2 separate regions of the Homo sapiens genome follow, and region 2 is reported to be linked to region 1. The links are microRNA targets in miRTarBase. Many come from high-throughput screens and were not tested one by one. Region 1 holds a microRNA gene; the other region holds the end of a gene's coding sequence.
The links. Region 1 holds the annotated microRNA hsa-miR-548g-3p (AAAACUGUAAUUACUUUUGUAC, at 2,391-2,412, shown strand). A microRNA usually pairs through its seed, bases 2 to 8, with sites in the 3' UTR of a target mRNA and lowers its output. Matches are read on the target gene's strand: a 7mer-m8 pairs with bases 2 to 8, a 7mer-A1 pairs with bases 2 to 7 and ends in A, and an 8mer does both.

Region 1 (3,411 bases):
ATTTGCCAAAATTCTGTCATAGTTATTATTTTCTAGGTTTTCCTCCAAACATTAAAATGTCACTATAAAAGGCACAGAAGCATGCACAGGAGATTGTGTACATAAAATCACCTATTAGCTATAGTTGACACGAAACTTCTCTTCTGAAGAAAAAGCCCTTGAAAATATTAAAGAGTTACTCATCTATATATGGAAATCCTCTTGAAAAACATTATTCAAACGTTTTGGGAAATTCTTATTAAAATACAGTATGGCTATGAATTATCTTAAGAATATATATTGACTTAATAAAAAAGAGGATTTGAGACATTTCTGAAAAATGACATATTTCTTATAAAGGTAACAAGCAGATCTCATCATTCTGGATATGTGTTTTGATTTATATTGTTAGGTGTGTATATTCATGTAAAGCCTATCAAGACAAGATAGATTTATTTTTAAATGAAAAGAAATGAAGTGCCAACTGTGGATTTGAATACATTAAGTGAAAAAAATTGTCCAAATGCCTTAAGTTTATTTAACTATTATTTATGAAGTTCAAAAGCGTTAAAAAAAAAAAAGGACCAAGGAAACTCATTAGATATGCTAGAAGGATTGGTATTCCAGTACTAAATTATAGTGTGAAATTATGGAGGGGAAAAACACATTTTTAAGCTCAGGCCTTTTGAAAGAATAAATAAGGTACATGTAAGATAGAGGTTTCATAACTATATATGTATTCCAAGCCAGGAGATACTAATCTATGCATATTGATATTATTCGCCTGCTGTGATCGTGGTGATGATTGTCACTACCCCTAGATGTGAGAGGTACAATAATCATATTATAACTGTTGAGTCTGCCCACTCCCCAGTGTTTACCAGGTCCACTAATTTACTCCATCTATTATCGATATTAAGATATAAGCTGCCTTCTGTGGTCATATGCCAACATTCTTCAGGTTAGAACTTCTATTTGCAGTGATCTGTGGAACTTAAAGCAACCTCAAACAAAATTAGAAAGTTTTGAAAATCCAACCACCTCTTTACTGTCCTTGCCATAATAGCCACCAGTGTCTTCTCCTTTGTGCACTCTAGGTTTCCATCCTCTCCTGGAGGCTAAATGCTCTCATTTTTCTTACACTCCCCATTTTCAATAAAACTAACAATATGGCATTAATTATTCATACTAATCAGTTAATTAATTGCTGTGTGAAATTGAGTTGCAAGAAAATATGAATTCCTCCTGGAATTAAAATTGCAACTTTTTCTTTGCTTATCTGAAACATAAAAAAAGTCTTTTATCTGTGATTCTAACATTTAAAAAGATGTTCATTCAAAAATTCCCCCCTTCAAGGGATGTCTGCCATTAAGTGAAGGATGACAGACACCTAGACTTCTGTGCGTGTAATTTCCTCATCCCCATCCCACTAGAGAATGGAAATGCTAAAATGGCAGTATTACCACCTAGCTGAGATTGACATAAAAAATTAGTTTGTCCTTAGGGAAGATTCAAGAGCTTTTGTACGTGTTACAGCTTTTAGAATAATTATTAAGAAGGCAAGGAGAGCCTTCTAGCTGGTATAGCTTTTGCTAAAACATCTCACAGAGTTTTTAAAATGAGACACGTACATGTAACCACTTCTATCACATAGACTTTTCTGGAAAATTCCTTAAAAATGAATATACAAAGCATTATTTGAGCAACACAAATTCAGAAATAATATGAGAGTTTATAAATAACAGTCTTCCTTGCCACTTTGACTATGTATGTGTTCGTGCATAAAACCTATTAAATTCTAATGTGATAAGCCATTATGTAAGCTTTGCTGAACCTGATTTTTGAAAGATTTTGTGAGAGGAAACAAAAAACGTGATTATGAAAAGAGGGTATTGTCATTATTTTTAAAAAACTAATCTAGGTTTTACTTAATGCTTCAAATAAATTATAACCTGTTCAGTTTCCATTATCATGGTCATGAGAATGGATTATCTCCAATGATTAGCTTCAACTTGGAGCATTACCTATTTTTTTTCTAAATATATGATTACTTCAGAGTAGAAGATTACTAGTAAACAAAAATGGATTCATCGATACTTCTTTTCTCTCTCTACCTAAGACAGGGTTTGGATAGATCCAGTCGGAAGCCATTATTTCCTGCCTAAGCCTTGGTTTAGCGATTAGAGAAATGATAATTAACATTTGTCTAGTCATATTAAGTATATCCAAAGCTATGCTATAATTTCTAAGTTGATATAACAAAAGTTAAAAACTTCTTGTAAATACAGATAAGCTTATCACTAAAATCTATGAACATTTACACTTAGCAATTATTAATCCTATCTACCAACATACTTACTATTAGGTTGCTGCAAAAGTAATCATGTTTTTTTCCATTGTAAGTAATGGGAAAAACTGTAATTACTTTTGTACCAACCTAATAGCAACATCAAATTATATTTGATATATAGTCATTGTGAGATATATATATATATATATATATATATATACGTATAAAATACACATATATCTCTCTATATGAACAAATATTAATGGAATACATTATCAAAAACAATTAATGGCACTGGAGACTCAATAATGATCATACAAGGTCTGGCCCCAGATCTCATGAAACATATTCTGTAGAGGCTGGCAGCCAAGAAAAAAAAGAACACAAGAAAAATACCGGATAGGAATATAGTTTTTGAAGAGATTAAAATGTAATGTGATAGAGAATGGTTGAGGGGAGGCTACTTTAGACTTTGTGATCCAGGTAAGACTTTGAAGGTTGGTACCATTTAGTTTGAGATTTGAATGACAAGAAGGTACCACTATTTGCAGATCACAAGGAAGTGTGGTTCACGGATTAGGAACAGCTAATGCAAAGGCCCAAAAATAGGGACAGTTTGGCTTGCTGGAGGAACCAAAAGGCCAGGGGGACTGTAGAGTTGCAGGGTGGTAAGTTAGATGGCTGAGGTCTGAGATGGGGTTGAAATATAGGTAGGAGACTGATTACATATTGTAGTGTCAGTCAGGGCTTTGAATAAGGGCTTTGAATTCTAGACTAAGTGCAAGACAAAGCCATCAGATTTTATGTAGGTGAGAGATAGGTCAAGAAAACCTATCAGGAAGGCCACTGGAGGAAGAGAGGACAGTTATTAGGCCAGTGAAGTTGGCCAGTTAAGACACAGTAGTGTCTTAGACCAGCTGGTAGTTGTGATAAAAGTATACTTTACTATCTTAGCCATTTAGTTATTTTAAAAACCACTTCTCTGTTTAGTTTTAGTTCCTATTTTTTTTTCCTTTTGACAGTAAAAGTGCTTTTTCCTTTGGAAATAGACTGCTTCAATTTGTGCCCACAGTTACTATTATTCAAGTTGCATCTAGGAAATAATATTTATCCCATAAACCATCAACAATTATGCAAAACAA
Region 2 (3,411 bases), not on the chromosome of region 1:
TGGGTCTGTAGAGGGCCTTGGAGTGACACCCTGACCCCCATCCACTAGTACTTGAAGGCCAGTGGTGGCAGAAGCCACAGAAACAAGAAGCCCAGTGAGATGGCTAAGCTGCCCAGCATGTAACTTAAATCCCTGTTCATTCCCCATTCCTTTAGCTGCTGGAGCCAGTTCTGCTTCTCGGCAAGGAGCGATTTGCTGGTGTAGACATCCGTGTCCGTGTAAAGGGTGGTGGTCACGTGGCCCAGATTTATGGTGAGTCCCAGGAACTGGGCGCATGGAGGAGGTGGCTCTGGGAGGGAGGCCTTCACAGCGCTCCTGTACCCTTTAATTGTGTGTCTTTCTCACAGCTATCCGTCAGTCCATCTCCAAAGCCCTGGTGGCCTATTACCAGAAATGTGAGTGAGCATGGGTCCTTCCCATGAGGTAGATGGGTGTGTGGGGATCAAGTCAAGGACTCTGTGTGATTATCTAAATCCTCGTCCCTGCTCTTCTTGCCAGATGTGGATGAGGCTTCCAAGAAGGAGATCAAAGACATCCTCATCCAGTATGACCGGACCCTGCTGGTAGCTGACCCTCGTCGCTGCGAGTCCAAAAAGTTTGGAGGCCCTGGTGCCCGCGCTCGCTACCAGAAATCCTACCGATAAGCCCATCGTGACTCAAAACTCACTTGTATAATAAACAGTTTTTGAGGGATTTTAAAGTTTCAAGAACTGTGTGTGGCCTTATGTGTTGGTATTGGATGTTTAACCAGACAGAAATCAGTAAACATCCTGGACCTATTGCCAGTCTGGATTTTGACCCTCCCCAGAAGTGGTCGCGCTGGGCTTGGTGTGGGTGAGTGGAAGCAGAAGGCAGGGGGTCTCTGTCTCTACACCTCCAGTAGAGTCCAGTGTGCAGGCAAAGCTGAGATGGCAGTCGTTTGGGGCCATTAGTGGCTGCAGACCTTGGCGGATATATGGCTCATCCTTGTGGATGTCTATTTTTTTCAAGCCCAGCCTCCCAAATAGCTTGGATTACAGGTACCCACCACCACGCCATGCTAATTTTGTATTTTTAGTATCGATGGGTTTCACTGTGTTGGTCAGGCTGGTCTCAAACTCCTGACCTCAAGTGATCCGCCTTCCCGGGCCTCCCAAAGTGCTGGGATTACAGGCGAGAGCCACCACCCCCAGCTGAATTTTTGTTTTTGTAGAGACAGGTCTCACTATGTTGCCCAGGCGTGGTCTCCTGACCTCAGGCAATCCTCCTGCCTCATCTTCCCAATGTGTCCAGGTTACAGGTGTGAGCTACCATGCCTAGCCAATAATCTTTAATACAAAGAAAACAAGGAGAGTCGGGCACGGTGGCTCACGACTGTAATCCCATCACTCTGAGAGGCCAAGGCTGGTGGATTACAAGGTCAGGAGTTAAAGATCAGCCTGGCCAAGATGGTGAAACCTCATCTCTATTAAAAGTACAAAAATTAGGTATGGTGGCAGGCGCCTGTAATCCAGCTACTTGGGAGGCTGAAGGAAAGAATTGCTTGAACAGGCGCCTGCCACACCCAGCTAATTTTTTTTTTTTTAAGTAGAGACAGGGTTTCAACATGTTGGCAAGGTTGGTCTTGAAATCCTGACCTCAAGTGATCACCCGACTCTGCCTCCTAAAGCGCTGGGATTATAGGCGTGAGCCACTGCACCCAGCCTAATTTTTGTATTTTTAGTAGAGATGGGGTTTCACCATGTTGGCAAGGCTGGTCTTGAACTCCTAACCTCAAGTGATCCTCCTGCCACAGCCTCCCAAAGTGCTGGGATTACAGGCATGAGCCACCATGCCGAGCCCAAAGTGGCATTTTGGACAGGTAACCGGGCTGTGGAAGACCCCAGGTTCTTTTTTTTTCTTTTTCTTTTTTTTGAGACAGAGTTTTGCTCTTGTATCCCTGGCTGGAGTGCAATGGCGTGATCTCGGCTCACCGCAACCTCCGCCTCCCGGGTTCAAGCAATTCTCCTGTCTCAGCCTCCCGAGTAGCTGGGATTACAGGCGCCTGCCACCTTGCCCAGCTAATTGTTCTATTTTTAGTAGAGACGGTTTCACCACGTTGGCCAGGCTGGTCTGGAACTCCTGACCTCAGGTAATCTACCCGCCATGGCCTCCCAAAGTGCTGGGATTACAAGTGTGAGCCGCCACACCTGCCCCCCCCCCCCCGCCTTTTTTTTTTTTGGAGACGGAGTCTTGCTCTGTCACCCAGGCTGGAGTGTAGCTGCACAATCTCAGCTCACTGCAACCTCCGCCTTCCGGGTTCAAGCAATTCTGCCTCAGCCTCCTGAGTAGCTGGGACTACAGGCAAGTGCCACCACACCTGACTGATTTTTGTATTTTTAGTAGAGACGTGGGTTTCACTATGTTATCCAGGCTGATCTTGAACTCCTGACCTCAGGTAGATCCCCCTGCCTTGGCCTCTCGAAGTGCTGGGATTAACAGGCGTGAGCCACCGCGCCCGACCTAGAGCCCAGGTTCTTGACTACTAGTTTAGGTTGTCACAGATCTGCTCAAGAGGCCCCATCTCTACCCTGTGGCCCCTCAACATGAGGAGCTAAGGAGTCAGGGTGGCCGCTTGTGGGAAAAGCACAAGAGGCTGTGGGACTCAAGCGGTGCCTGACAGCCTGGAGGAGTCAGGTGGACTCCTTGGGGGAGAGGACATGGGAACCAGGGTCTGCTGGCCGGTAGGAAGAGTAGCCAGGGAGACCATGTCTGTGATGAGTTGTTTTCGGGTGTCTGTGGCCTCAACTTGCTCATTCACTTTCCTTGAACACCTGTGCCGGGCCATGTGCTCGTCATGGGGCACTGAGTGACCACAGCCCTCTTCCCCCTCCCAAGGAGTCACAAATGACGCAAGGGTTGCTGCCGGTGCTGGAAGAGGAGTTGGGCTTCAAAGCACAGTGCATCCTCAGCGTTTTGTATAGGTGCTTGGAAACGGACTTAAGCAAAACAAGCAGATCCTGTAATAACAGTCCTTTAAACAAACTGGTTTCCTTATACGTCGTTTCGCTTAAGGTCACGGTTTCCCAGAACCTATTGATGACGTTAAGTGAGGACTTCGTTGAGTGGCTAATGACTCATAGGAAGCGAGTGAACTTCATTGTTTGGGGAGCGCAGAGATTTCTACTTCCTAGTTCCAGCCTCTGCAGCCAATAGGGAAGTCCCGCACCTAAATGCTCAGGGGGAATGTTTTACAACTTGAGATTTTCTGTCCACTTGCCCACTTTCTATGTATCTACCCTAGTTAATACAGTAGCCAGTGCTCAGAAGCCATGTATGGCTACCAAGCGGGGCTGCACATATTAGAACATTTCCGTCATCAAGGAAGGTTATATGGGACAGCACTGACACAGGATACATAAAATGAGTCGGGGGCTGGGCCCAGTGGCTCAC

Region 2: miRTarBase lists RPS16 as a target of hsa-miR-548g-3p. Seed matches in the 3' UTR shown: 7mer-m8 at 679-685.

The regions. Positions count from the first base shown.
Region 1 is chrX:32,640,487-32,643,897 of GRCh38, reverse strand. It overlaps MIR548F5 (microRNA 548f-5), which reads left to right and starts at 2,339; the gene lies at 2,339-2,424. The region is part of intron 11 of DMD (dystrophin); the gene reads left to right.
Region 2 is chr19:39,430,506-39,433,916 of GRCh38, reverse strand. RPS16 (ribosomal protein S16) reads left to right here. Exons shown (of 5, transcript NM_001020.6): 3 at 156-252; 4 at 348-395; 5 at 499-780. The coding sequence ends at 644. Among named protein-coding and RNA genes, the nearest start is that of RPS16, 3.7 kb to the left of the region's middle. RefSeq lists an enhancer at 2,354-2,473.